2 separate regions of the Homo sapiens genome follow, and region 1 is linked to region 2. A link means that fine-mapping ties the variant in region 2 to the expression of a gene that starts in the linked region. Tissue or cell type: whole blood. Region 2 holds a variant in brackets; the other region holds the start of a gene. All regions are shown on one strand. Distances are between the middles of the regions. Region 1 holds the start of RBM26 (RNA binding motif protein 26). Region 2 overlaps RBM26 (RNA binding motif protein 26).

Region 1 (16,348 bases), 32 kb after region 2:
TCAGAAATTAGTTTGAAGTTTAGATGAGCGATCCAAGCAGATATACAGCCAGCAATTAGAGATAAAAGCTTAAGACTGTGAAGAGTGGTTAAGTCTAAACATACTTATGTGAAAATAAATGCAGAGTAGAGGTTCTAGTTTGGAATCCATTAACAAGCTCAGAGTGAAAAGCTCTGAAATTCAATGCAAATGTGTATGTATTTGTAAATCCTAGGGAGACAGTCTTTAATCAGACTTTAAAGGATCTACAATATACACTCCAAAAAAAGTTTTTAAGAACCACTGGCATGTATTACAAAGAAAACCATTCATGGGAAAGGTCTTAGTCCGTTTGTGCTGCTATAACAGAATACCACAAGATGGGTAATTTATAAAGAAATTTATTGGCTCACAGTTCTGGAGGCTGGGAAGTCTCATATCAAGGTACTGGCAGGTTTGGCAATTCTGATTCCAAGATAGACCTTGAACACTGCATCCTCCGGAGTTCCTCCCATGGCAGAAGTCAGAGGTCTCCCATAGCAGAAGTCAGAGGGGCAGAGGCAAAACCTAACCTTTTATAAAGGCATTAATCCAATCAACAAAGGCAGAGCCCTCGTGACCTAATCACCTCTTAATACTTAACGAAATTAAATTTCAACATGAATTCTGGAGAAGACAAACATTCAAATCTTAGCAGTAATTAATGAAATGTCAGAAGTAAAAAATGGATGAAGAAAAAAATGTCAATGTAACAACACTGAAAAATACAATTAGAATCTGAAGAAAAGGAACAAAAGAGGGTAAGACTGACTTAAGAAAAGGAACCAACACATTAGGGATTCAAGGCAAGTAAGTTAAAAAGGTGGCATCAACACTGATGTTATACACGCATAGGGCAAAAAATATAAAACTTCAGGCAATAAATATAAATTGATTGGTAACACTGAGGTAAGTAATTTTGGTTGTAATTATATTACAACGAAGAAATTCTATTCCAAGACATTAAGAAGTAAATGGCTGAGGGCAAATTAACAAAAAATTAAAAGTCTGACTACTACTTCAAGATTTACCAGCGACAGGAACAGAAAGCTAGCAAGAAAGTGACTAGAAGCGTTTTATCTTTTGTTTTGTTTTTTGCTATTATTGCTGAGTTTTTCCTAAAGAATGGGAAATGGACTTACTATGCCAAAAGAAGCCAACTGAAAAGGAAAGGTCAAAGGAATCAAAAATACTCAAAAGTTCAGGAGTAAAAAGATCATTTAGCCAACCCAAAAGAATAACTCTTCCTATCAGACACGAACAAAAATAAATTTTAATGTGGTGAGAAAGGTGTAGTAACAAGTACAGGTGAAGGGGAAAAATACTACAAAAACCACAAAGATGTTTATTTCTTAAACTCTAAAGCACTGATAATCACGATGCTTTAGAACTTTGTTCTTTTACAATAGTAGCCAATACTATCAAAATGTCATAGTAAAAAAGTATATGCAGTAACAGAAAACACTAGGATGCTGCATTCTGTAGTAGTAAATTAAGAATATGCACACAGCTCTAGAGTCAAAAAGCCTTAGTTTAAATCACTGTGGGCAAATAACTTCATGCTTCAGTGCCTCAGTATCATCACCTGCAAAATGGAGAGATAACAATGCTTACCTCATAAAACTTGTAAGTACAATAATACAAAATGTTTAACAACAATGCATACAGTTTAGGTGGTAGTCACAGCAGGAGTGTTGGTGATAATTCTAACAGTAGCAACAGTAGTAATGTAGCCTATCTGTGTTTAATCAACCAATATCTAAGAAAGGAGGGGAAGGGCAAGGCTCACAAACATGTGTCCCATTCAACCCTTTCAACTATAGATGGAAATACTGTAATTCTTCCTATTATACCAATAAGGAAAGAGGAGGTTTCTTTGCCTAGACAGCTAATAAATGGCAGAAGTGAGATTTGAATACTGATCTGGACACAGAGATCTTCCTTCCACCACACACTTCCTCCACAGCACTACACAGTGGCAGAAGCACAACACTAGGCATTTTGTTCTTTACTACTCAACTCACAAAACCTCAGTACGTCATTACATCCACCTGCCCCTCAATTTTATTTTCTAAAAAATTAAAGTTTCATTAGATGTTTAGGTGTCTCTTCAGGAAAAAAAAAAAAACATGACTTTGATGTGTAAGTCCACCTAAAAGTTTTAAATACAGTAGAAAGTGTTTTCTGTTTTTTTTGTTTGTTTAAAAGTTTACTACAACAAAGGAGCTTAATTTTTTTTTCAGGACTTCTCATCATCAAAACGAAATGTTAGAAAAAAGACTAACATTTAGTTTCATATTATTGGCAAGTATGACTAAGCAAATCTTTGAGATAACAAAACATCAATCTTAAGCATTTCAAGATGACAATTTTAATAAAGTTCAAAATTCTCAATTTATGAAAAAGACATTGAAAATTATTTTCAATAATTTATGAAACTCAGAACCCTGATACATGTACAGAAGTTATGAAACAGTAAATACAGATATGCAGACTTCTATTTCACGCTGAAAACACAGCCAGGCTTTTTTTTTTTTTTTTAAACATCCATCTGAAAACCCTCTTGCCCTAAAACCCTTCACTGGCTTCCCACTATCCTTCAATAACATCCAAAGTCTTAAACATGACTCAACAAAGTCCTGTGTGATCTGGCTCCTATCTCTGGAGCTTTCCACTGCCATTCTTCTCCTTTGCTTTTTTCTATTTCTTTCAATTCCTCCAACATATCTTTTTTGTCCATTTTTAGGACCTCCATACAATCTGTTCACCAAACCTATAACGCTTTCACAGGTCTCCAATCCCATCCTTTTGCCCCAGCAAAGTATTCTTCATCCTTCCAAGCTGAGATAAACATTACACCAGGGAAGTGTTTCCTGATGTTCCCAGACTTCAACACCTATCTTTCCTGCTAAATGGTAAATAAAATGAAGTGAGTCATTTCATGTCTTGTTACCTACTATATCTTGCACACTGCTTAGCACAGAGTAGGTTAAGTACTCTTAAAATAAATGTTTGCTGAATTAACACATTCAAAATGTGGAGTAAGTCCAAAACCATGAAGTATTTAACCACCACAGGTAACTAAAAAGTTTTATGTAAGTTTCAAGTTACAGCTTACCCTTGGTCCTCTGTATGTTCCTCTCTCAAACAGAGGTCGTTTGGTAATTACAATGTTAAAGCAAAAAAAAAAAAAAATTCCTTTTAGATAACAGATCATAACATTTCACAAAACCAACGTTAGAAACCACTGATCCATAATTGGGATCAGCTTTTATAAGTCATCATACAAAAGAATCCACCTGAAATGCAATTAAAAGGACAAGAACTTGAATAAGGGCTCAATTTTACCACAGCTACACACATTAGAAAAGGACCAATTACAATTCCCAGTGTCTAGGCTCTACTAGCAGAGCCTTATTTATTACAACATAATGACTGCAGTGCTACAGCCATCGAGAGTAGGCTTTATGATACATGGAATATGTTTCATTAAGACTAAAGAAAAATTACAAGCATACACTCTAAGTAGCTACAGTCTTCTCATTTAGGTAAGATGGAGGGATACGGCAGTAAATCTAATATGAAACTGAACGCTTAAAGGAAAGCTATTTCAATCCAAAACATTTATAAGTTTTGTATTCACCTAATAACTACTGAATGCTAATTACACACCAGACAGTAGTCTAAGATTTCCTTAATATACACCCATTATTTTCCCAATTTTACAGTTGAGGAAATGGAAGCCCTGAGTTAAGTAACTTACCCAATATCATACAGCTGGTAAGTGGCAGAGGCAGAATTCAAAGCCAGACATTCTGCTCCAGAGTTCTCCTCACCGCTATACTATGATGCCCACTCTCCAATACACCGAAATAGGACTTCCATCTGCACAACTCTACTCCAGTGAAACTATTTTGCTAAGGTTACCAATGACTTCCACTTTGCTAAATCTAAGGGCTACCTATTTGCCTCCATTTTTTCATGCATTCTGCAGCATTTCATAAACTCCTCTCTTTTGCCATACACTTGTTTTTTAATGACATAAAGCCCAGTTTTCCTCCTGCCTCAGTACTAGGCCCTCTTCTCTTCCCTACCTACACACTTTTTCTATGAAATTTCCCACAATGTCATCGTCTTAAATACTATCTGCATGACTCCAGATTTCTCCAGTCCTGTCCTGAGTTTTAGACTCATATATTCAATGATCTGCTATCACACTTAGCTGTATCCCACAGACTTCATACTTACTGTATTTATTATTATCAAAACTAGCCATCCACTTTCCTTCTCCCCTTAACCTGTTCTCTGCCTTCTCTAATATCACCCATTCTGTTGCTTGGGTTATCTAAGGCACCACCCTTGATTTCCCTTTCCCTCATCTCCCGCATTTAATCCATTAATTTTACTTATGAAATGTATTTGGATCTGCCTGTCTCCACCATCACTCTAATGCAAACTAGCCACATCTCTGCCTACAACACACTTCTGAATAATCTTCTTACTTCCATTCTTGCCCTTTCAGTCTCTACAAAATAGGCAGAGTTAAAACAAAATTAAATCAGTCCTTGTCTGCTTTAAATCATCTCACGTCTTCCCATACATGATGTGGCCCCTACCTACTTGTCCAACTTGTTGCCTTTATATCCTCTCCCTCATCACAAGGCTCTTTCCAGCCACAGTGGCCTTTCTCTTCCTGAAACACACCACAATCACTTCTGCTACAGGGCCTTTCATTTGCTCTTCCTTTTGCAAGGAATGTTCTTTTCCAAGACTTTGACACACATGGTCCCTTCTCTTTAGATGTTACTCCAATGTCACCTTCTCTGAGAGTCCTTCCTTGACCAATGTGAAATAGCCCCCCTCATAATCACTTTTACATGATTCTCTATTATTACAATAGTCACAACTCTATTAATATCTGGATTTATTTATGTCTTGTCGATTTTAGAATTTAAAAGCTCTATCCCCAAAGCCTCCCGTAGTATACAGTAGGTACCTAATAACTTTATTAAATACGTGAATTTTCCCCATTGCATTATTGTAAATCAACCAATTCTGATTAAGCACTTTGGTCCATGTCATATTTTGTATTAACAAGTCGTCAAAACACTCCTTAAATTTTCCAATCTAAGACTATTTCAGCACTCTAACCGCAGCCCCCAACACAAAATCTATCTATAGCATCCCACTTAAAACTGCTAAATATTCCATATGGATGAAGATTCAATTTTCTTCCTCCTCTCCAAGCTAACGAACGCGTAGGCGGGAAAGGGGAATTTTACTGGCCACCTCAGCACCTGTTACATCTTCAATCAGTGAAGAGAGGTGCAGATGAGCCAGACAGCACATGGGAGACGTGGCCTTGCTTTCAGGAATTATATTTAGGTGAAACGTGAGTGATTTAAGCTAGAACTGCCCGAATCCCCAATAAAGGCCGTCTACTTCATTTAGAAAAACAAGGTAAAATAATCTGTAGGAAGTAAAATACAGTCGGTTTCACTAAAATAAACCGATTTTGAGGCCCCCGGAAAATATTGCGGGTGGGGGTTGGAGACGGTCTATATATAACGGGAAAACGAGAGCAGCTCAGCAATAAAATAAAGCTCGACTCAGGCTCTCGGGGGTATCCTGAATCTGGAAGCGAGGTGGACGAGGAGGAGAAGCCACAGAACCCTGGGACCTCCGTTCACCGCTTCGGCCTCCACCGCAGGCACTTGGGGAAACTGCACAGATCTCTGGGTCCGCCTATCTCCCACTGCCATCCCTGCAAAGAGATATCCCCCGGATACTCACATGGGCTCGAGAGTCTTGCTGAGCCAGGACTTGAGTGCCTCGAAGTTTTCAATGATCATTTTAGAAACCATCCACAGCGGCCCTAAGGCCCGTCACACTCCTCCGCCCGCCCAGGTCGCGGCCGCTACAGCCGCCGCTGCCCCCGCCCCCTCCTCCGCGCGCCGCCCGCGTGGGCCGCGGTGGGAGGCGCCGGTGGCAGGTTCCCGCGGGCCCCGGTCGGCGAACAGCTCTGCAAGGACCGCCGCAGGCCACAAGTGCACGGGGTGCCAGGAGCTCCCCGTCCCCGGCCCCCAGCCCGGGCTGAAACAGCAACGGTTTGCCCGGGCCCTCCCCCTTCCCTCTTCCCCAGCAAATCTACCCAGACCGGAAGCGCGACACGCGCTTAGACCCGAGCCTTCTCTCAGCCTCGGGACCAGGTGCTTGTTGGCTACGTCGAAAAGGCAAAAGTAAAGAAAGCGAAGGCGAAGGGCAGCTCAATGGGAACGATTCAGGGGGTCTTCCCGGCTCCCAGCACCCCCAAGAAGATGGCTGCCGGTAAATCTCGCGAGAATTGATGAAGTCTCGCGGTGGCTCCCGGAGCCTGCTGGGAGAGACGTAAGGTCGGCGGAGAATGCGCGGGTCGAGTGCTGTAGTTCGATTTTTGCGTGTGTGCGTTGCTTGCGGCCTTTGTGCCTTTTTATTCTTTGCTTACCTTTATGATATAAAGACCTTATTTCTTACAAGGAGGAAAAGACCGCTGACTTCAGAAACAGCGGGAACCCCAGCTCGTCCCCGGTAAGACGGCCGTGGCCTGTCAGCTGGAACGGTCCTGCCGGATGGATCGCTCTTTGAGAGCGTACACTCCCGCGTGCGCGACACCAGGCGGCCCGTAGGTTCCAGGTGCCGAGCACACTACCTCCTCAGTTTACCTAAGTGCCCTACCAGTATCATATTCTGTGTATGCTGTGATGTGAACGAGGTTTGTAAACACAGGCTGGTCTAATGGAGCCCAATGAGACCGCCAGAGGATTAGTGTCTTGTCCAACAGTACTTGACTTGCTGGTAGAGCCCTAATGACTGAGGGCTGCCCACAAGGGAAAGGTGAGAGAACCTTCACGTCTCTCAGGTAGTTTCCAGCCTGCACTTTCCCCCAGCTAAAGATAAGTTTTGTTATTTTTAAAATTCTCTTTATTTAGAGCAAATTCAGCCCTATCTCAGATCGGGAAATTATATAGTATCAAAAGAGAGAGTCTTCATATTAGCAACCCAAATAAATAAACTATTTTCCTGGGTGATCAAATAAGTTTGATTCCTGCTTGAGTTCTATTTAGATACTAGGTGGAATTTTACAAAGGGTCTACGTTCCATGAACTGTAATGGAATGAAAATATTCACAATCTAAAGACATTTTCAGTAAGTAGATCAATAAAAGCTCTTTATGAGAGACACCGATAGGCTAAATTGTTCTTAGGAACTCTTGAGTTTATAATTTGCTAGAGTGAAGTGTCTTTAAGGATTAGGTGGAAAGATTATGAACTACAAAGCAAGACATTTGTTTTAAAATACAGCATATAGAGTAGAATACAAATTAGAATCCAGCTACTGAATAACCAGGGTGTTGATTAAAGTGATTTAGCTGAGTGAAATAAACCAGACATGAAAGGACAAATATTATGATTCCACTTACATTAAGTACCTAGAGTAGTCAAAACTCCTAGAGACAGAAGGTGGAATGGTAGCAAGAGCAGGGGTGGAGAGGGTGCCCAGGAGAAGGGGAAATGAGGAGTTATATTTCAGTGGATAATAGAGTTTCAGTTTAGGATGATTTAGATTCTGGAGATGAGTGGTGTTGTGTGGGTTGCACAATATGAATGTACTTAATGCAGTGGACCATATACTTAATGAAAACGGTAGGTTTTATATGTATTTTACAATAAAAATTGTTTATAAATTTAATACTGCCGAAAGTTAAAATTATATTTGTTTAGTCTGTTTGTTGTAGCCTTGCCACAGGCTGACGCCACCAATATTTTCAACCTTATCACCAGCTACTCCATTACTCTGGCTCTCCACTTCAGCCTTCCAAAGCTTCTATCAAATACTGTATACCCCAGATAAACTGATTTGCTCACCCTCCCTTTCTCCAAACATTTGTTCACTTTATTTTCCACAGAGAACGCTTCTACTTCTTTCCCTGACTGCTCAAACTTTGCCCATCCATCTCTCATACCACTGTCACTGTCTTATTTAAAGTCTTTTATTCTTCCTAAATAATAGCAAAAGCCTTTTAATATCTTTGCCTTTTATGCTGACCTCCATCTCAGTTCATCTTCAGTTGCCCTCATCATCATTGCCTTTAATAGCAGTAATTCTAAAATTTTGATCTAATCATGTCACTTTCTTGCTTAAAATCTTCAACTTCCACATTATCTTTAGAATAAAACACATTATTTAACATCCTATAAAGGGACTTTCATAAATCAGACACCTTCCTTTTTGCCTAGAAACTCCTTTCAGTCTTTGCTCCAGCCATCCTAAACTATTTTGAGTTCCTTAAAATAAGTTGTTCCATGAAAAGGCCCTTTATGCAAAGTGCCCCCCAAACATCAAAGGAGAAATCAAATGAACAAAGCAGACAAATCCAGTTTGGTCAGTAAAGAGTGTTTTGTTGGGGGTAACTTACAGACAGAAGCATGGTCTTCAGTGGCAGCAAGACAGGTAGATGTCTGCCCTTTTACTCCCCAGACCAGTACTTACATGCCATAAGGAAAGGGTGTACGTACTCTATAGAGACATTTAAAGGCAACCCTCCAGACAGGCAAGAATGCTATATGCATCATAGCCTGTAATTTGTGTGATAACATCAGGGTTGCTTTGTTGTTAAACTAAGGACAGTAAATAAAGTAATAATCACAGGGCTGGGGTTAATCAGAAGGCAACATGACAAATTAGCATTCAAGAGGGAGTAAACGTTTGTCTCCACAGAAGTGTGTCCTCTCACTAAATTGAGCCATTGCAAAATGTGTTTCTCTACCTTTCATTTGATAGATTCCTACTTAAGCGTCAAAATGCAGTGCATACAGCATCGCCTTTGGAAATCCATCTTTGACCTCCCTTCTGTAAAGCGAGAGTCCCTCTGAGATTTTCTGACATCAGCCTGTGATTGCTTCTTTTATAGCACTCATAGCTTTATTTTTGCAAGTATGTGATTATCTGTTCTTTAGTGGATTATAGCTTTGAATCCCCCGCTTCAAGAACAGCTGCTAATATATACAGCCAATCCTTATTCACGGTGGTTCTGTAAAAAAGCCACAAATGCTGAATTAGTGAATATGGAACCATTGCTCCTAGGAGAAATGCAGGATTAGGTTCCTTCAAGCCTCTTATTAAATGTTTGTCAACCAGCCCATAAATACCTTGTTTTATGTGTGTTTCTTTTTAAAGGCACCTTATGTAGGAAAAAAAAAAATTTTTAAGGCACCTTATTTAATATAGTTGATTCATTAACATTGAACTCACAGCCAGTGGCACTATAACTCATGCTTACCTGGCGTATGTATTTTCTCTTTAAAAAGAAAGAAGAGCCTTCTGGCACTTAGGGACCCAGATAGCCTCATCACTACACTTGGGGGGCATTTTAAACAGTGAAATCACAAAAAGGTCAAAAATGCAACAAATGTGGCCTTAAATAGACCATGAAAAGGACACTTGTTTCCAGTGTGAGAGCTAAAACAGGAAGGCAGAGCATCCCCTTGTTTCACCAAAGCTGGGAACATGTGCATCAGGTGACTCAAATTTTTTTGCCTCTGTTCATGTCGACAGATGACTGCAAAAGCATTCCAAGTATTGATTTGGGCATTGCAAATAAATTTTAGCAAGTAGGCAAACTCACAAATACAGAATCTGTAAGTAATAAGGATTAACTATATTTTTTGAATGACCAAAGGAAGCCGTACCACTTCCATGAAACCTTTCCTGGCCACTGTGGCTGATAGCAGTATCTTCCTCCTCTAAATTTATGGTACAGTGCTTATTATCACTTCACAGTTAGTCATTTTTGCTTCCTAGAATGCTTCTCTTCCTTAACCATTAACATTTATCCTTCATTTATCCCTGCTTCATCTTCTTTGGCCCTGCCTTCAAAGGCGACAATTAGCTGATGTAATCATCAATTCTACTAAGAGAAGACTAAACAGCTGCTGTGGACTACTTTCTCTATTCAGTAACATGTACATTTTGGAATGTCCAGTATCAGGTTGCCTGCTTAACGTTTTCCAATACACCATGTTCTTTCAAGGCCATGTGACTTTATTAGCACTGTTCCTTTTGCCAGAATGATTTTCCTTATTGCTCAAATGTCAGTACCTCAATGATACCCTGGACAAAGGTCTAGCTCCCTACCTGTAGAACAGGAGTTAAAACATTTACTGGGAAGAGATTGTGAGGACAGATAAAAATAAAACATTTTATTTAGTTTTCTCATCTTTCTCGGCCTTGTGAGCTCTTTTAAGGACTGGACTCAAGTTTATTCCTCTTTCTACGTCCTGCACTTAACTCAGTGTCTGAAACTCAAAAAATGTTTATTGAAGACACATGCTTCGTTTTAAATAGGAAGGAAGCAGAGGCAGGAGAAAATATTTTAGATAGGCAAGAGAATGATATGCCCTCTAACAGATCTGTATTTCTTTATGGTTTATTACCATAAGTTGCCTTCATCTTTTAGCTGCACCAATCCCAGGAATATTCTCTATAGTGTGCTGAACTCCTCCTCAGGTTTTTCCAGCTCTCTCCTCTAGTTGAATACAGTCTTACTACTCTCAATAGTGCTTTTGAAGTCTTGTTTAAAAACAGTCAGCATTTCCGGATCAAAAAGAGATTCTGTATTTTCTTCTATTTCTTTTGCAGTCCATTACTCTACTTAGAATCACACTTAAGTATTTATTCTCTCTGTAATACATCCCTGTTTGTGGTGTAAAGTGAGGATCTAGGCCATTTTTTTTTTCTATAAGTCTACTCACTCAGTTTATTCTTTCCTGTTGATTTTTTTCTTTTTTTTTTTTTTTTTTTCCTGGGACAGAGTCTGACACCATCTCCAATGCTGGAGTGCAGTGGCGCAATCTTGGCTCACTGCAACCTCTGCCTCCCAGGTTCAAGCAGTTCTACCTCAGCCTCCCAAGTAGCTGGGACTATAGGTGTGCACCACCATGCCCATCTAATTAGAGAGGGCGTTTCACCATGTTGGCCATGCTATTCTTGAACTCCTGGCCTCAAGTGATCGGCCCGCCTCGGCCTCCTAAAGTGTTGGGATTACAGGCGTGAGCCACCGTGCCTAGCTTCCTTCCTGTTTGATTTTTGATGCCACTTATATCTTTCTGTTTTCATTTCATTTGTGTTCTGCTTCTGACCTATTTTTCAATTGGTCAGCTTGTCTGTGACTACTCCAGTACTATGTTGCTTTTATTTACTATTGTATTATAGAATATCTTAATATATAATAAGGCAAATCCCTCTTCTTTGCTCTTTTTCAAATTTAGCTTGGCTAAATATGAATCTTGGTCTGGCACAGTGGCTCACACCTATAACCCCAGCACTTTGGGAGGCCGAGGCAGGCGGATCACTTGAGGTCAGGAGTTCAAGACCGGCCTGGCCAACATGGTGAAACCCCATCTCTACTAAAAATACAAAAATTAGCCAGGTGTGTTGGCACACACCTGTAGTACCCAGCCCAGAGGCTGAGGTGGGAGAATCGCTTGAACCTGGGAAGTGGAGTTGTCGGTGAGCCGAGATTGAGCCACTGTACTCCAGCCTTGGCGACAGAGTGAAACTACGTCTAAATAAATAAATAAATAAATAAATAAATAAATAAATGTGAACCTTTAGTTTCCAAATACATAGAACAAGATTGTTGAACTTGTAAACAAAAAATTCTTCATCATTGAAGTTATGGATTAATTTGGATTGAATTGACATCCTACAGTGTATAGCAGTCACAGAGGTGTGCAGCTCAGATCTCCCTTCAAGAAAGGACTCACTGCCCAACTGCAAGGAGGATAGTTACCTGACAGCTTCCAGTTGTTAACTCTTTCTAGGTTCACCTCAGCTTTCAAGTTGAAGTTACACTGTTCTCAGGGAAAACCCTCTCCCCCATGCCCATCCGCAGCTCAAGACTGAGCAAGGGATAAGGACCTGCTCGATATTGGGATGGCAGAAGTATTGTCAGACCTGCATGGTAATCTAATGGCTCTCCCACCCAATTCTGCTTCCCCCCTTTCCATTTCACAGGTGCTACTTTCCAGTAAACTTTTTGCACTTTTAACCCCATCTCAGCATCCACTTCCCAGAGAACACCATAACACAAATTTAATCATCTGATTCATTCTATTTTTGTACATTTTAAAAATCGTAGTTAATAATAAAATTATAAGTATTATGAAAGAGGAAACTAAGAACCATTTTAGCAATTTAGACTGTAAAGGCTCAAGCATGGTTTCTCTAAGGATATGATATTTAAATGGTTAAGAAAAGTGAATAATGAGTAAAAGTCGAAACAAGAACATTCCAGCATACATAATAGCTTGTAGGATGTTCCTGAGGTAAAGAAGAGTCAGGATCTTAAGGACAGAGTGGTGGGAGGGTATCAAATTGGGGACATAGGGAATGGCTGTCAGTCAAGTTAGAGGTAAAAAAATTTCATGTTAAGATTTTGGAACTGGATTTTATTTAAAATAATGATGCGAAGCCATTGAAAGGTTTTTGGTGTGACAGGATAAATTTAAAATATGAACACACCAACGCATACTTCTTTTAAGAAAGAACCTGATTAAATTTGGGAATTTTAAAATAAAAACAGGAAGCATATCGTACTCTAATATAATAATTCAAGGGTTTTTATTTTCCTAGAAGATCAAGGTCATGTTAATAAAGGGAATATAGTTTTCTTATCTGTGTTAAGACACTGATGACTTGCAAAGAAAAGTAACACTTTTGTGATATCCTTAGGTAATTCAAGAGGAAACGCTTGAGCAATTACTGATGTTGTAAACTGGGATCAGAAGACATACATGGTATCGTATCCCAGGCAAGGCACAGTGGCTCACACCTGTAATCCCAGCACTTTGGGAGGCTGAAGAAGGCAGATCACTTGAGGTCAGGAGTTCGAGACCAGCCTGGCTTACATGGTGAAACCCATCTCTACTGAACATACAAAAATTAGCTGGACATGATGGTGAGTTCCTGTAATCCCAGCTACTTGGAAGGGAGGCTGAGGCAGGAGAATCACTTGAACCCAGGACGCAGAGGTTGCAGTGAACCGAGATTGCGCCACTGTACTCCAGCCTGAGCAACAGGGCAATAGAGCGAGACTCCATCTCAAAAAAAAAAAAAAAAAAAACCATACTATCATATCCCCCTAAATTGAACCAGAGCACTTCTGGCATAAAAAGCTTTTTTAAGGCCGAGCGCAGTGGCTCACGCCTGTAATCCCAGCACTTTGGGAGGCTGACGGGTGGATTACCTGAGGTCAGGAGTTTGAGACCAGCCTGGCCAACATGGCAAAACCATGTCTCTATTATAATACAAAAATTAGCCAAGCCCAGTGGCACACACCTGTAATCCCAGCTACTTGGAAGGCCGAGGCAGGAGAATCACTTGAACACAGGAGGCGAAGGTTGCAGCAAGCCAAGATCACGCCACTGCACTCCAGCCTGGGAAACAGACTGAGACCCTGTCTCAAAAAAACAAAAAGCTTTTTTTGTTTTTTGTTTTTTATGTGTGTGTGATGGAGTCTCTCTGTGTCACACAGGCTAGAGTGCGGTGGCATAATCTCAGCTCACTACAACCTCTGCCTCCTGGGCTCAAGTGATCCTCTCACCTCAGCCTCCTGAGTAACTGGGACCACAGGCACATGCCACCCACGCCTGGCTAATTTTCTTTTTGTATTTTTGGTAGACGGGGTTTCACCATGTTGCCCAGGCTGATCTCTTGAGCTCAAGTGATCTGCCTGCTTTGGCCTCTCAAAGTGCTGGGATTACAGGCATGAGTCACCACACCTAGCTAAAAAGCTTTGAGAGGCAATCACCAACTCTTCAGTGGGCACTGTTTATACCCATGATTAATTATGACTCCATCTCCATAGGTGCTGTGGAACTGTTTATGGATGTGGTTATGGTGGGTAATAACATTAAAAAGGTATATATACATATATTGCATGTTCATACGCACACACATGCAGACACTCACAAAGTCTCCCATACAAACTGTCAAATGAGGACAGGTAAGTGTCCTCAGAGGAAAAACATGTATGTAATATTATTAAAAATCATATTAGTGATATGATGTGATACTTGTGCTATCAAAATGATTTGAAATGGAATAAGGAGAGAGAGTAGAGTATCAATGAAATAAGATTGGCTATGAGTTGATTGTGGTTGAAACTGGATGATGGGGATGGTTATAATTCTTTCAGCTCTTACATATTGAAATTTTCCATAATAAAAAACCTTTAAAAAAAATCTGTTAAGGCGGAGAGACCCAGAAAACAAAAAGATCTCTGGGAAGGCCTAACAGACTGGCTACAATGGAAGTTCCAGGAAAGCAGAGATTTTGCCTCTTTTCTGCAAATGTATCTCTTGCGCTTAGAGAAGTTGATAGCACATGGCAGGTTCTCTTGTTGAATGAATGAATTGGAGAATAAAACCCGTAACCTAGGTGACAGTCTGTCAGCTCAGAGTCAAGAATCCTTGGGTTCACTCACCTGTCACTACAAATGGCATTTGTTAGTTATTATAAGAATAAATACTTAAAGAAAACCTATTCAAGAGAAAGCAGATTCATAAACTTCCACCATGGATTTCATAAGTAGGTATATACATGCTTATATGCATATGATCCCACCTAGAAAGCTGCTATCATATCATTTCATTTCATTCCTTTTTTTTTCAACAAATATTTATTGTAGAGGTATCTCTGTCTTTCAAGCCAAAAATCAGGGGGAAAAAAATCAGAAAAGAAATCTTATTTGCTTATTAATTGAAGTGTGGGAAGACACAGATAATCTTTTGAAGAAAATTCACCTTTACATATTGTTCTTAGTTCCTTAGTAGCCTTAGGACAAAACTGTTAAAAAGGTAATGATGTAGAACCTTAATTAGGGCTTTTGAAATTTGAAGCCATTTTTATTGGGGGCCAGAACCTAAGCCAGGAAAACAACCAATAACATTGCAATAACAAACATCAGGCATAATGAATGCCCTTAGGAGACACACTCTAAAGTTTTAAAGCTGCACTATCCCATTCCTCCAGACAACAAAGAGAAAAAACAATCTACATCACCCACAAACAATAGTGCATAAGTTAGGAAGAGGCTAGGTTTGGCTGCAGTAATGAACAACAAGGGTTCATTTCTCTCAAACCCTGCATGTCCATTACAGGTTAGCTGCACCTCTACTCCACGTGTTCCTCCCTTCAGGTCCCAGGCTGATGGAGTAGCCTCTGTGTGTTTGGGATGTTGTCAGTCATAATGGTGGACACAAAAGAGATTATGACAAACCGTGTATTGTCTCCTACAATTTCTGCTCACAGAAGTGGACAACATCACTTCTTTCCACATTTCATTGACCAGAGCAAGTCATGTGACCAAGCCTGATTCAAAATAGGCTGGAGCAAGGAGGAGCAGCAAACATAAGTGAGTTTATAATATAATCTACCATACAAGGTAAACCAGAATTTAGGAATGAGCTCAAAGCCTGCATTTCATGTAACTGCCAAAGCTCACACAGGATTTGACCTTCCTTCCCAGAAGAAAGAGTTGACTCCCTTAACAGCATCGGGCTGGACCAATTCCTGGCTGTGGAAGCAGCATCCATCACAAACTGTTTTCATAGCAAATGAATAGTAAACATAGGGGTAGAACAAACTACACTGCCACATACCATAGCCACTAGCAATGTGTAGCTGTTAAGTTCTTGTGGCTATTTAGAATTGTGGTGTGCAGTAAGTATAAAATGTGCATCAGATTTCAAAGCCTTAGAAAAAACGTGAACAATGTTTTTCACTTGTTCCTCAACAACCAGAAAGTAAAATATCTTAATTTTTACATTAATTGCACATTGAAAGAATATTTGGATATATTGGCCTATTAATATACTAAATAAAGTATATTAATAAAATTAATTTCACTTTTCTTTTTTTTGAGACGGAGTCTCGCTCTGTTGCCCAGGCTGGAGTGCAGTGGCGTGATCTCTGCTCACTGCAACATCTGCCTCCCAGGTTCAAGTGATTTCTCCTGTCTCACCCTCCTGAGTAGCTGGGATTACAGGTGCCTGCCACCACACCTATCTAATTTTTTTGTATTTTTAGTAGAGACAGGGTTTCACCATGTTGGCCAGGCTAGTTTTGAACTCTTGTCCTTAAGTGATCTGCCCGCCTTGGCCTCTCAAAGTGCTAGGATTACAGGCATGAGCCACTGTGCCTGGCCCTCACCTTATTATTATTATTTTTTATTTAAAAATGTGGCCCCTAGAAAACTTAAAATTACATATGCAGCTCACATATTTTTATT
Region 2 (16,348 bases):
GGCACTACACTTTTTGTACAGTCTGCAGAACCATGAGCCAAAGACACCTCTTTTCTTTATAAATTTCCCAGGCTCAGGCATTACTTTAGAGCAATGTTAAACTAACGTATACATACTAAAAAAACAAAAAAAACACACAAATGAAAATAACCTAACGAGATGAGACTTAAATATAATTTTTGTCATATTTTTGTCTTTAGAAATGTCCTTCATTTAAATCTCTTAAAACTAAAAAAAATTGCAATGATGGCTTTAATACTACTTATAAATCTTTTACGGTAAATCCTTAAAAGTCTTCAATTCTTTTTATTTTTTTATTTTTATTTTTTTTGAGACGGAGTCTCGCTCTGTCACCCGGGCTAGAGTGCAGTGGTGCGATCTTGGCTTACTGCAAGCTCCACCTCCCGGTTTCACGCCTTCTCCTGCCTCAGCCTCCCGAGTAGCTGGGACTACAGGCGCCAGCCACCACGCCCAGCTAATTTGTTGTATTTTTAGTAGAGACGGGGTTGCATACCATGTTAGCCAGGATGGTCTAGATCTCCTGACCTCATGATCCACCCACCTCAACCTCCTAAAGTGCTGGGATTACAGGCGTGAGCCGCTGCGCCCAGCCAAAAGTCTTTAATTCTTTAATAAAATTCTTACAAAGGTGACATTTACATTTCTAGATACATTTCTATTTACAGTCCAATAATCACTCATTCTAAAGAAATGAGTTTTGTCAATAATGTTTCAGTAGCAGATTCCCTGATAAAAACTCAGTAGATATTTACTCATTTGGTAAACTCCCACAATTTATTAAGACTTACTTGCAAATAAATACTACCTTTAAATTGATAATCAAATTAGTGGCAACTAATAAATGTTTCAATCATATTGAGGAATTCAAAAAGTGACTAAGGCTAATTTCCCACTTTTCAGAGGTAAGTCTTTGAATAACTATGTACAACATAAACACAGAATTTAGGCAGCTGGAAATATTAATTAAATACTTTATCAAACAGCTGAAAGACTTACCATCATAGTCTCTACACCGTTTCTTTGGCATGGGTGGTCTTACGTAAGAGTTATGGTCCACTTGGTCTTCATGAAATTCAGACCAACTTTCGGTAGTGTTGTTTCCATGATGAGTAGGAGCAATTACTGTAATAGTGCTGCTCAAAGTAGGTACAGGGTAGTGGCCAGATGAAATACTAGGTACCGAAGAGACTGGAGTATAATTATTTTCTAATGGATCTGTTCTATCCAGGTCATATTTAGGTTTTACCAGATCCCTTTCTGCAACGAAAGATAAATGACATATAAAACTACACTGTATTAAAAAAAAAAAAGTCCCAGATCTAAGAAATAGTGATATTTTTATAAACATAGAAAAAAAATTTTAAATTTTGCATAATAATCATTTTCTTTTAAAAAATATTCAATTAATATACAATGTTAAAAGGTAAGCGATTTCTTTTTAATATAACCCAAACTACAAAACCAGGTAATGCTGCCATATTTAATGTTTTTCCTTAGAGTTTTGTTTATAGAAAAAAGGAATTTTATATTTTCTTCATCACAATCTTGGTATGCATAATTACAGACCACAAAACAAAACATGCAATAAAGTATGGTTATTTTTCCTGTGATGAACATTTTGTAGTCATCCATTTAAAGTTACTACAATGGCTGTTATATTAAGATAAGAACGGATGACCCAGAAAGAGTTCATATTAAACATGCACAAAGAAATTAACTAGACTATACATATGGTCCTCAGGAAACAGAAAAGAAATTAAAGAGATTAGTTAAGTGAAGTAACATTCCATGAAGCCTTGTATACCTAGATCACAGCAGGGGAAAATTTCTAAGAAAAGAGTAACAGAATACAGGGCTTATACAAAGGCCATAAATAGTATTAAGAGTAGCAAAAAAAGTTTGAGAAAAGGTGCTTTACTGAAAAGTGTTTTAGGTGTTTTACGACAACATCTTACTTTCAATAACATGTACTAGAAGAAAATTATACATGTTGGGAATGACACGCTCTTGCAAAAATATATATCTGAAATAAAACTTTTTAAACTTTTAAAAATAGTTTTGAAGTATAACTGATATATAATAAACTGAACATATTTAAACTGTATAAGTTTTAATCAAGATATAACACCTCTGAAACCAATACCACAAATAAATGATGTACATATTCATCACTTCCAAAAGAATCCTCATGCCCCTTTGTAATCTGTAATCTATCATCCCTCCTTTACTCCATTTCAGGCAACGACTGGCTTTGCTCTCTGTCATCACAGATTAGTTTGCATTTTTAAAAACTAGTCTGGGCACAGTGGCTCAGGCCTATAATCCCAGCACTTTGGGAGGCTGAGGCGGGTGGATCACCTGAGGTCAGGAATTCGAGACCAGTCTGGCCAACCTGGTGAAACCCCCAACGTGACTCTACCAAAAATACAAAAATTAGCCGAGCATGGTGGCACTTGCCTGTAATCCCAGCTACTTGGGAGGCTGAGGCATGATCATCGCTTGAACTCAGGAGGCGGAGGTTGCAATGAGCTGAAACAGCACCACTGCACTCCAGCCTGGGCGACAGAGCAATACTCTGTCACAAAAACAAAGATTAAGAAAAAAAATTTTTTAACATACATATGTATTGTCCTGCTTCTTTCACTCAGCATAATTATACTGAGATTCATCCATTTTGTTGCATGTATCAATAGTTCTTTTCTTTTTATCCATGTTATGGTATGGATATACCACAACATGTTTATACATTCACCTCTTGATGGACATTTAGGCTGTTTCTAGATCTGGCTCTTACAAATAAGTCTGCTATGAACCTTTGTGAACAAACACCTGTGTGGACATACACTTTCATTTCTTCCAGGTAAACAGTAAGAAGTAGAATAGCGGACCCATATGCTAAGTGTAGTTTTAATATTTTTACATACTGCCAAAATGTTTTCCAAAGAGTTTCAGCTTATCTACTTTCTCACCAACATGGAATAGAATCAGTCTGTATCATCGTGGCTATCCTGTTGAATGTGTAGTGGTAACTGTGATTTTAATTTGCAAGGAATAAAACTTTTAAAGGAATTTTTAAAAAGCATTCTCTTGGACCACAGAATACATCATAATAGAAAAAAATGAAGACAACACTGACAAAATGTTAAGCAATTTTTAAAAACATTTAAACATGGAGTTTTTCATAAAAAGATAACCAAAATATATTATTTACCCCTGCTTCGTGTTCTGCTTCTGCTTCTAGTCCTGCTTCTATCTCTGTCCCTCTCACGAAGCCTCTCTTTACTCCAACTTCGACTTCGACTCCTGCTATAACTGCGACTCCGCCCTCGTCTTCTATTGTACCGGTCTCTGTATGAATCTCTTCGAGGAGGGTTTCGATCATAATCTCTTTTGCGAGAACGATCATCTTTTTTCCTCTCATCACGGCTTCTAAAGAAATATGTGATCACTTTAATACAAATAATTTTTAAGTGACACAGGAAAAAGCTAATTAAATGCAAAAGTTACATTTAATTCTTGTAACTTAACTTTCTATCCTACCATCAGACAACTGAAAAAACTGAGCTTAATATTCAGTACTTTAAATCCCTTTTAAATGAAAAACAATCTTTTTAAAGCCTTAACCCTTAGTCTTATTACACATTGGCAACTATACAATTAGGCATCTGTAGATAAAGGCATCTGTATATAAGACTTAGAGTACATATAGAACATACTATCCCGTACATATAATCTCACTTACAGACATGTATCACATGCATTGTATTCTAAGTGCTTTTGAAGCCTGAATGAGAAAAACAATTTAATCACACTAAATGGAAACAGCAGGCAAAAAAAAAACACCCACACATTAAGATTCTACTGGAATCTGAAGTTAGGAATAAAAAGATAAGCAGCTAATATATGTCAAGCACTGTTCTAAACTCACTCCCAAGATCTACAAATCTGACCTAGATTTTCATGGTAGAAACGGACCTAGTTATATTTTCCTAGACCAATAAAAGAGTAGATATTACTTGCCTCTGCGTAAAAGATAACCCAAGTCTAAACATTTGTATAAAAGATAACTTACATCGAAACACTGAGTATGGTTCAATGAACTGCTCACCTATTTTCCCTGTATCGGGAGCTTGACTGGGGAGGACTGTGATTTAGCCTTCTAGAAAACTTCTTCTCTCGCTCTTCCTCCTTAGTGATCTGATTAAAAAAAAAAAAAAAAGTGTACAAGTTTAGTAATTATTCCACTGTTAAATAGCCTTAGATAGGGCTGGGCACAGTGGTTCATGCCTGTAATGCCAGCACTTTGGGAGGCTGAGGCGGGTGGTTCACGAAGTCGGAAGTTCGACACCAGCCTGGCCAACATGGTGAAACCCTGTCTCTACTAAAAATACAAAGATTAGCTGGGCACAGTGGCAGGGGCCTGTAATCCCAGCTACTCTGGAGGCTGAGGAAAGAGAATCGCTTGAACCTGGCAGGCAGAGGTTGCAGTGAGCTGAGATCGCGCCAGTGCACACTCCAGCCTGGGCGACAGAGTGAGGCTCTGCCTCAAAACAAACAAACAAACAAAAAAAAGCCTTAGACACATTACTGCTTTAATGACTTTATTAACATTAACATTTAATTAACATTAAATAAAATTTAATTAACATTAAAATTAGTTTATATAACGTAGAAGCAAAATTGTCATCTTCTAAAATTATCCAAACAAAGTAAATTTCTCTACTAAGTATAATCATTTAACTATAATGAAATGATTACATTGGTGAGAAAACATTTTAAGCAAGTATGCTCATTTAACATAATTAATGGAAATCCAATTTTATTCCTCTTTCAAAAGTCTAACATATATTCATGTTTTGGTTTCGTGGACTTGGTGTGGTACCAAACACATCAAGGAATATAGGAGAATACATTAGAACTCACCAAGTCATAAATACATACACACACACAAACATATACATGTTTATATATATAAATATATATTTACATATTATATATATTTATGTATCATATTGTAATTTATTATATATTTTATATTATATATAATTATATGATATATATTATAATTATATGATATATATTTATAATAAATATTTTATATAAATATATTATATATTATATAAATATAAATATATTTATAATATTTTATATGCTATATAAAATATATCTTATATATTACATATTTTATATAATATATAAGATATATCTTATATATTACATATTTTATATAATATATAAGATATATCTTATATATTACATATTTTATATAATATATAAGATATATCTTATATATTACATATTTTATATAATATATAAGATATATCTTATATATTACATATTTTATATAATATATAAGATATATCTTATATATTACATATTTTATATAATATATAAGATATATCTTATATATTATATATTTTATGTATTATATATTTATATAAATTTTTATATAAATATATAAAATATATAAAAATATATAAATATATATAAATATGTATATGTTTATGTGTGTATGTATTTATGACTTGGTGAGTTCTAATGTATTTATATATTTATATATAAATATATAAAAATATAAATAAATATATATAAATATAAAATATATATTATATATAAATAAAATATATAAATATATAATATATATTATATATAAATATATATAATATATATTATATACTATATATAAATAAAATATAAATATATATTATATATTATATATAAATATATATAATATGTATAAATATACAAATATATATAATATGTATAAATATACTTATTTATATATATTACTATATATATTTATATAATATATTTATATATTACTATATATATTTATATAATATATTTATATATTACTATATATATTTATATAGTATATTTATATATTATATATTACTATATATATTTATATAGTCTATTTATATATTTATATATTATATATTACTATATATAATAATATATAATATTTTATATATATATATTACTATATATAATAATATATAATATTTTATATATATATATCTGGGAAAACAATATATAAGGTGAAATAGTTCTCCAGTTTCTCACAGCAGCATGACAGCTATATATTTCTGTTTCCTACAAGGTGCCTCCATTCACATTATATAGCTACTAGAAAGCAACCTTGGAAAATATTCTCAGTGCTACTTTCTCCAGACTATATTGTTGAGAATAATGGTCCTCAACAACAGGAACGACAGGAATCACTGTTTTTCTAGGTAATTAGAAAAAGGGACTTAGAGGTTGAACAAATTCAGGAAATATCGTGCAAGTGGCTTCTATAAATAAGATAGGGCTCAAGATTTTGTGTTACTGAGAACCATAAGATATTCTCATGCAGGTAGTCTACGCACAGGGTACACATGTCCCAGTTTATGCCAGCTGTTCCAGCATCCTTTTGATAAGGGCTTCTGACTGTCAGAATGTACCACTTTATGCTGGGCACAGTGGCTCACACCTATAATCCCAGCACTTTTAAAGGCAGAGGTGGGTGGATCACTTGAGGTCAGCAGTTTAAGACCAGCCTGGCCAACACGCTGAAATATCATCTCTACTAAAAATACAAAAATTAGCTGGGCATGGTGGCACGCGCCTGTAATCCCAAAAGGGGATTACAGGAGGGATACTTGGGAGGCTGAGAGAGGAGAATTGCTTGAACCCAGGAGGCAGAGGTTGCAGTGAGCCACTATGGGGCCACGACACTCCAGCCTGGGCAATAGACTAAGACTCCGTCTCAAAAAACAAACAAAAAAAAGTGTGCCACTTTAGATGAGAAATCAAATGGAAATCCTATTAACAGACCAAACTAGGAGAAATAATCTTTAAAGCATTCTTTCAACAGTTTGCCTTTTTAAATTCAAGTACTTTCGTACTCTTTCCACCTATTCCAGCTCTCCTCCCAGACCAGACAAAAAACCGGGTACTAATACGACCCTTCTGATGCACTCTTTCCCTTCTATTTCCTCAATGCACTTTTGCGAGTTATCTAACAGATCACCATATTCCACAGTACATGCCCATCTGCAAACTTTTAGTATAGCCACAGCATTTTAAACGTAGATTGCCATCTGGCATTTCAACAATTCTGAAAGATCAGGGATAAGTATCTCCCACAATTGGTTGAAAAAACAGGAAGTATTATTACATCAATAGATAATAAGACTAAGGCTTTGCTACTAACTCGATTTAGGGGAAGACTACTCAAGCCAAGGGACTGTGATTTACTCAAGATTTTCTGAGAATTAAAGCATACATATAATATATATATTATATATATTTTATACATTTTTTATATACTATATATTTATATTTTTATATATTTATATGATATATATAAATATATATTTATATATATCATATAAATATATATTTATATTTTAAAAATAAATAATATATATTATTCATATTTATATATATTATATATATAT[A/T]TTTTTTTTTTGAGACGGAGTTTAGCTCTTGTCACACAGGCTGGAGTGCAATGGCATGGTCTCAGCTCACTACAACCTCTGCCTCCCAGGTTCAAGCGATTCTCCTGTCTCAGCTTCTCGAGTAACTGGGATTACAGGCACCTGCCACCATGCCTGGCTAATTTTTGTTTTTAGTAGCGACAGGGTTTCACCATATTGGCCAAGCTGGTCTTGAACTCCTGACCTAAGGTGATCCACCCGCCTCAGCCTCCCAAAGTGCTGGAATTACAGGCGAGAGCCACAGTGCCCAGCCAAAGTATAATTTTTCACAGCAAAAATCTGAAACCAAACCAAAGTTCCACCAGTAGGCAAAACTTGAATAAACCATTGCATATCTCTATGTTGCATAAGCAATTGCCAACACAATATACACCGTCCCTTTCTTCCTAACAGAACCCTTATACTGTTAGGTATGAAATAGGTTCAGTTATAAATTACATTTCTGGTCTTCCCAGGCAGATAAAACTGATTGGGATGTTACATGTGGGTATGTGTATATGAAAATATACAAATATACATGTGTGTAAATATATTCAGATAGAGATATAAATATATTTGAGATTACATATTATAATATATATTTTATTGCATAATAAAATGTATTATTTATATGTAATCTGGAAAAAGCATAAAAGGAGAAAAAAAGGTCACAACATCAACATCTCTTACAATCTCAAAAATGACAGCAGCTACCATTTACTGAGAACCTACCATGTGCCACATGTGAAAAGTAAAATAATGTATATAAAGCACTTGATTGGTGCTTTATATACATTATTTTACTTATTCCTCACAAGAACCTTTAATATTTCCATTTCGCAGCTGAGTAAAATGAGGCTCAGAAAAGTAATGTTTTCAAGGTCACAAACCAGTGATTTGTAGAACCAAAATTTTAACCAAGATATGTGTGACCTAAAGCTAGGGCTAAATGCAGAAACATAATGGCTTGACTGCCAACAATTATTTTCACTAAAATTATAGTTTGTTTGTTTTTTTTTTCCAGACAGGGTCTTGCTCAGTTGCCTAGGCTGCAGTGTAATGCTTTGATCTGCACCCTCAGGCTCTGGGGCTCAAGCAGTTCTCCCACCTCAGCCCCTCAAGTAGTTGGGACTACAAGCATGCACCACCCCATCACACCTGGCTAATTTTAAAATTTTTTTCATAAGAGATGAGGTCTCACTATATAACCCAGACTGGTCTCAAACTCCTGGGCTCAAGTGAGCCTCCTGCCTCAGCCTCCCAGAGTGCTGGGATTACAGGCATGAGCCACCACGCTCACCCTGGCCAAATTATAATCTTTTAACATCAAATTGAAAAGATATAAATTATTATATGACTAGTAACTAAGGGTGAAGAGAGAAGGTTGTAAAATACACACAAAAATTTTGGGACCTCTTGAAGTATGAAGTCATATCCACTGTCTTGTGAAGGTCCTTGTGTTTTACTACCTTAAAAACAGTCCCCTACTAAATACATGTATGACAAAAGCAAACAGACCAATTGTCAACCTAATTATTTTCATAGAACAGATATTAAGACTCTATGTCTGTAAGATATTGTGCAGAGTAAAAGCAGGCCTGACAATACTAACCTTAGAAAGCCAGCATGCTTGTAAGGCTGGCTCCTGGGCACTTTGATTTCTCGAGGGTTCCCATTACCCCCTGATAAGGAATGGTTCACTATGCCTGAATTAGTTATGAAACAATATGGTCTACACTGAACATCTGCCTTCCTCCCAGGAGTCTGGAATTTTGGTACATACTAGGTAGGCGGTGCCTATGTGACCAGTTCCAAATAAGAACGCAGGGCAGAGTTTCTAAGGAGCTTGCCTAATTCCCATGTGTTGTTACAGTTCACTGCTAGGGGAATTAAGCACATCCTGTGCAACTCTGAGGACTTTGTAAGCTTGTGCTTGTTTTCCACTGGACTTGGCCTCATACACCTTTTCCATTTGCTGACTTTGCTTTATATCCTTTTGCTGAAATAAGCCAGGGCCATAAGCACAATTATATGCAGAGTCCTATGAGTCCTCCTAGAAAAATCATTTAAACTGGGAGTGGTCCTGAGGACTCCAACACAAAGATATAGAAGATAAAAACTCAGTTTGGTTATTCCTCTTATGTGTTTAAATAACCTGTAAGGTATTAACACAAATCGTTACCTCTTCCTTCTTTATATCTTTTTCTTGGTGTGGAAAAAATTCTACCTTCAGGCTTCCTGATGATGGCTGCTCTGGAGGAGGTAGGTAACTCTTTGTATTCACAGCATCAAAAAGTTTTTCCACAAATATCTGTGTCTCTAAAAATAAAACCAAACACCATAGATTAAAACACATTTGTTAAGATTAATTCCCCGCTTCCACATCTCTTATCTCTAATATGATGAAACATACCTTGACTTTTATAAACTAGAAAATATACTAGCACTGGCCAGGCGTGGTGGCTTACGTCTGTAATCCCAGCACTTTGGGAGGCCAAGGCAGGTGGATCACCTGAGGTCAGGAGTTCAAAACCAGCCTCGCCAGCCCTGTCTCCACAAAAATTAGCCAGGCATGATGGCAGGTGCCTGTAATTCCAGATACTAGGGAGGCTGAGGCAGGAGAATCACTTGAACCCAGGAGGCAGAGACTGCAGTGAGCCGAGATCGCGCCACTGCACTCAAGATCACGCCATTGCACTCCCGCCTGGGTGACAGAGCAAGACTCCGTCTCAAAAAAAAAAAAGTAAAAAGAAAGAAAATATCCTAATATCAACAGCTTCCCAACCAGTGTGCCATGGCACAAGTCCTGAGGCAATACTGATTCATGCTATTTTCAAGACGGTAGGGACTGGAATGGTCGCAGCCCTCTGGGCTAGTCACCTCCAGCCATGACTAAGTCTTCTCCACATCGCCTACTCAGTGTTGCAAACACAAACACTATCATAATCTAGATGTGGCAAGGTACAAAAAGCTGAAAAGCAATGCGCTAGGTAAGATTCAAAGCAGTTTCCTAAGCAGTACTGGCTTTAAATAAATAGGCAGTCATTTTCTTAATCTTTTAATCTATGTAAGAAAAAATATCAACATGCTTTAAGAATAAGCACATGGACATTACTGAGAGGTGGCATCCATTTTAAATAAGCTATGGATATACTCAATAATAATATTGTTTATTTAACTTTGTTAAAATTAGGGCTTCTTACCGAGTTCCTTTAATATTCTGTGGATAAACTTATTTTAAATAACTTTATTTATTTTTTTTGAGATGAGTCTCACTTTGTCGCCCAGGCTGGAGTGCAGTAGCGCGATCTCAGCTCACAGCAACCTCTGCCTCCCAGGTTCAAGCAATTCTCCTGCCTCAGCCTCCCGAGTAGCCGGGATTACAGGCACCCACCATCATGCCCGGCTAATTTTTATATTTTATGTAGAGACAGGGTTTCACCATGTTTGCCCGGCTGGTCTTGAACTCCTGACCTCAGGTGATCCACCCACCTCAGCCTCCCAAAGTGCTAGGATTACAGGCGTGAGCCACCATGCCAAGCCTTAAATAACTTTTTAAAATATAGTAGTATTTTTAAACCAAAGATCTTACCTTTCTGAAGAAATACATCCAGCTGATCAATACATAATGCCTTTAACTCTTTTTCACTTTTGTCTTTCTTTACCAAAGCCAGAACATATTTTGCTAGGGCGGATGGATCTGCATCACAGCTAAAGAAAAAAACCAATGTTGAAGAAAATTTAGCCAACTGCACATTCTACAAATTCCAGTTACAAACTGAATTAGTGAGAATAATAGTTAAGTGAGTTAATACATGTAAAAAGCACCCGGGTCACAGAGGACCTTGAAGAAATTTAAGTTCTCTTTATACTAACACTCCTTAATGCTATGTGTAGCCATTTTATTTCTTAAAAACATACCCATCAGTATATTAGTTTAAACAGCAAAAAAAGAAAGTCTAGAAATGGATCCAAATGTACTAGGAATTCAGATTTTATAAAAGTGGCATCCAAACCAACTAAGAAGAGATAAATTATGCAATAAACAGTATTGAGGCCAGGCACAGTGAATCAGTCCTGTAATGACAGCACCTTGGGAGACCTAGGCGGGCAGATCGCTTGAGCCCAGGAGTTCAAGACCAGTCTGGGCAAAATGGCGAAACCCAGTCTCTACCAAAAAAAAAAAAAAAAAAAAAAAAAATTAGGCATGGTAGTGTGTGCCTGTAGTCCCAGCTACTCGGGAGGCTGAGGGAGAAGAATCATCTGAGCCCAGAAGTTCAAAGCTGCAGTGATTTGGGATCACGTCACTGCATTCCAGTCTGGGTGACAAAGTAAGAACCCTATCTCAAAAAAAAAAGAAAATGTATTGAGACAACTTGGCAGTTGCCTTTTACAAAATAAACTTGGAAACATGTCAGAGGAAAACACAATTTATTTAACCCTGGAGTAAGGAAGACACAAAATCCATATTATCAAAAAAGTAATGTGATTATAAAAAACAGAACAAAAAAAAAAACTCAGAATGAAGAGTCAACCAATGAAAAACAAGCTCAGTTTATCTCATCACAAAAAGGCTAATTCCCCTAACCCACAGTGTTTTTACCGAGACTAACATTATAAGAGAAAAAAAGACAAAGGATATGAATAGATGCTAAAACATAAAATAAATAAAAATGACTCTTAAATGAGTAAAAATTCAACCTCACCCATAAGAGAAATACAAATTTAAGTTACACTGAAATATTTTTCAGTTATCAGGTTGGCAAAATCCAATAAATATGAAAATGTATTCTGGTGGCAAGACTAATGAAAACGCAATTCTAAACATGAGCTGGTGTGAGTAAACTGGTAGCTGATAGAATACTCTGGTAGTATCAAGGTCACAAATGCAATTTACATCTACGAATTTATTCTACACATATACTCACGTGTTCAAAATGACATGTGTACAAGTTATTCATTGTCATATTGATTGTAAAATCAAAAATGTGCACATGTCCATTTAGAGAGAACTGGAAAAATAAACTGTATTAAAATCCACACAAAAGAATGACATGTAGCAAAAAGATAAAAAGACAGGTAATGAAGTTTTCAACCCCTAAAGAAATCTTCATATCAATTCATTAAATTTAAAATGCAAGACAAAGAAAAGGTTTGTATAGTATTTGCCATTTGTGTTGGGGGAGAAGAGAGAAATCTGGTTTATATATATGTGGAAGGATAAATAAACTACGGCTATCTGGACAGGATGATAGTATGAACTAAGTAAAGGAGGGACAGGGTAAGAAGGGAAAGTTTTTAAAAAAAAAAAACCACATAATAATTGTATGTATTCATAGAGTACAATGTGATATTTTGATACCTGTATGCAATGTGTAATGAACAACCAGGGTAATTAGCCTATCTATCACCTAAAACATTTATTTCTTTGTGTTGGGAACATTCAAAATCTTCTCTTCTAGCTATCTGAAAATATATAATAAATTAACTGTAGTTACCCTACAGTGTTAAACAACACTAGAACTTACTCATCCAATCCAGCGTAATTTTGTATCTGTTAACCAACCTCTCCCTATCTCCCTACCACCCTTCCCAGCATTTGGTAACCACTATTCTACTTTCTACTTATATGAGACCAACTTATTTAGCTCCCATATATGAGTGGTAACATACAGCATTAATCTTTCTGTGCCTGGTTTATTTCAATTAACAATGTCAGGACGGGAAATTTTTGATGTCTGAACTATTTTCATCCAATTCAAAAGAATGATATAATTGTTTATAACTAAGCTAAAATTATTAAGATTTTACAAGTTAGAGTAACTAACAATAAAATAATAGCAGTAGTTAATTACTAACACTTACTCAACAATTACTAACACTTACTCAACACCTAGTTTGTGCCATGAACTGCACTTCTAATTTTACATACTATATTGGGCTCTCACTTTACTGATAAAGAAACTGAGGTTCAGAGAAAAGCTAAGTAGACTTCCCAAGACTACACAGCAAGGAAATGAATCAAGATTTAAAACTAAATCTCATACTCCAAAGTCCACATTCTTAACCACCACACTAGACTGCCTCTTACAACGAGGTGCCAGAAACCTGACTTCCAATTTACTTTTTAAACACCTAGAGTTACAGTCACTCCCTATCAACCAAATCAACCAGACATCAACCAAACTAGACATCAAGCTAAACATATTTCAATTTACTGGAAATCATTATGATACATAATAATATTATTATGTTTTATTGCAACTGCTGTATATAAATTCAGTCTACACTGAGTCTAAATGCTGTAATTTAATATTGGTTTGATTGTTGTGGTGAATTTTTAACTTATTAGTGGTTTTTCCAGTAACTTACCTGTCATTTTTCAATTCTCTCAACGAAATACCAAATCTATTTCATTTTTGCACCATTATTTTTTAAATAGGACATTTTAAAACTGAATTAAAATGTTAGCAGCTAAAAATCTAGAGGAAGGCTTTCATGATTTTTATAATTATTATGGTCTATAAACCACAGTTGGATAAAACAGCAAGACAGAATTAAAGAAGAATCTCTGCTCAACATCTTCTGTAGAAGCAATCTGAACTGAATAAAAAACGATTAGCCACAACAAATATACTACCATATACAGTTCTAAATCCTTGAAATAATTTGAAAGGCAGATGACTTTTTAACATTTGTTAAAAGTTCAAATTATATAGAAGCAGGGGTTATAATTTCACATTTAATGGCAAAACAACTGAATTTGCATTTGGGAAACAATTTTTCTTAAGTCCTACAAGAAGTTCCATTTTTACTTCAATATTTTTGAAAACAAAAAGCTGAGTAAAAAATATGGACCACAGAAATTTAATAATATACTGAAATGTTATGTATCAGGAACAGAAAGGCAAAACCTATGTTCTCTTTTCTATTTGTCTTAAATGTTATATTATCTGAACTTCTAGTGATGATGTTATGCAAAGTCAATTAAATAAACATTCAAATTAACTAATTAAAAAAACTATATTCATATAGCAAATTATTTTTAAAAATTATCTCCATGGCTAGCAAGATTGTTCGAGGTACTTTACCAGTTGCCACTGCTGATAAAAGGTTTGTAATTTGAATGATCTATATCTTGTCAGAGCTAGACTTTTCTTTACCCCTGCTATATACTGCTAGCATCCTGAAAATGTGTGAAAGAAAAAGCAGACCTGAAATTGCCTTATAGATCGGGGAAAAAAAGAATCAAGTTTTGAAAAGTATTTCTTAGCTCCCACAAACAACAAAATCTGCCAATAAAGTATGATTATGATCACCAAGTGCTCCAACTGCAATTACTCTTCTGTGTGTGTGTTGGGGCTGGTGAGGGAGCAGAATACAAACAAAAGCAAAAACTACAAAATAAGGCATGAGATCTAACTCAACAATAGCATTTGTAGAAGGCAAATAGAAGGTGAAAACTTAAGCACTTTAGTAAACGGTTAAGTTAAAGGAAATGAAAGTGTGAAATGGCTGGGGGGGAAACATAAATTATAAACATGCAATAAAACAGAAAACTGAGAACTAGACAGGAAAGAGTGCTGCTCTCCTATGCAGTAGAGTGTTAGTGCTTTCAGTTCTAGGTTCCACCTTTATAAATGCATAAACAAACTCAAACAGATTCTTAGAAAATGACCAAGATGGTAAATGGATATCATTATTAGATGGTTTTCTAGGGATTCTCAGCCTAGAGAACTGAAATGTCAGAGAGAACTTGGTAAGTCTTCAAATAATTGAAAAGTTATCACAAGGAAAAAGGATTACATTTGTCCAATATATCCTCCAAGGAATGTAACTAAAGCCAGTAAGCAGAAGCAGCCAAACAGGTTTTGGCTTAAAATAGAGATAGGCTTTTTTTTTTTAAAATAATCAGAGGCCTCCCAAAGGCAGAATAAACTGCCTGAGGGTTCTCCTTCATTAGAATGGTTTCAAGCATAGGCTGAACAGCTCTTGGCAAATAAGCACTGGACTGGATAGTAAATCCCACACAAGTATCAATGAGTAAAATCATTAGGTTTAAATCTGTTCATAAGATACTGTGCAAATATATGAAATATAAAATAACACATTAGTCTGTTCAATTACTGATCTACATATATTAGTAATAGAAAAGCATTTTTTAAAAATTACACTGTAGATAAAATACACACTACAAAAGATCTGAAACATATTAATAGTTACTAAGAGAGAGAATATACATACAAATATATGTCTCACTAGATCAATGGCTCATTTCTGTCAGGGAATCTTTCATCTTCATATAAAGTTTGATGAATAAAATAAGAAAATAAGTATGTTGGGTTTAGTGATTATCGTCCAAATATCGCATTCATTATTCAAGAAAATTTTAAAAGCACCTACTCTGTCACTGTTCTAGATCCTGAAAATACAACTTTTAGAAACATCACTGTTGCCACGGAATTTACATTGGGGGGTGGGGGGAACCAATATGCATATTACACAAACATACGTTTATAGTATGTATTGTCATGTAGACACGTGCTCTGAGGAAAAATCCAGGTTGAAAAGATAAAGTGTAAAGGAGGAGAAAGGAAGAAAGGTAAGGAGAAAGAAAACAGAAAAGATAAAACAAGTATTATTTAAGATCATCAAGGAAGGACTCTGTTGAAGGGACATTTAAACAGGGATCTGAATTTAGATAGGAATGGAAATGGAATGCAAATATGCTTTATGGCTATCCGGAAAAGAAAAAATTTTAAAAAGCCCAGGCCAAGGGAACCCATCAGAAAGAGCCTAAGGCCTACTTGACCTTCTTGACACATATGAGGGACAGGAGTCCAGTGAAATGGAGCAAAGTGAGC

Evidence for each region. PIP is the estimated chance that this variant, and not a neighbour inherited with it, causes the effect.
Region 1: it holds the start of RBM26, and the variant in region 2 is fine-mapped to the expression of RBM26 in whole blood (INTERVAL, PIP above 0.99).

The regions. Positions count from the first base shown.
Region 1 is chr13:79,399,893-79,416,240 of GRCh38, forward strand. RBM26 (RNA binding motif protein 26) reads right to left here and starts at 6,363. Exons shown (of 22, transcript NM_001366735.2): 1 at 5,812-6,363. The coding sequence starts at 5,882. It overlaps RBM26-AS1 (RBM26 antisense RNA 1), which reads left to right and starts at 6,417. Exons shown (of 7, transcript NR_038991.1): 1 at 6,417-6,585; 2 at 12,790-13,015; 3 at 15,370-15,472. RefSeq lists a silencer at 5,919-6,118 and enhancers at 6,028-7,019, 6,349-6,648.
Region 2 is chr13:79,367,713-79,384,060 of GRCh38, forward strand. RBM26 (RNA binding motif protein 26) reads right to left here. Exons shown (of 22, transcript NM_001366735.2): 2 at 11,077-11,195; 3 at 9,667-9,803; 4 at 4,130-4,218; 5 at 3,233-3,450; 6 at 1,018-1,278. Among named protein-coding and RNA genes, the nearest start is that of RBM26, 30 kb to the right of the region's middle. The variant A/T (reference allele first, on the strand shown) is at 7,467.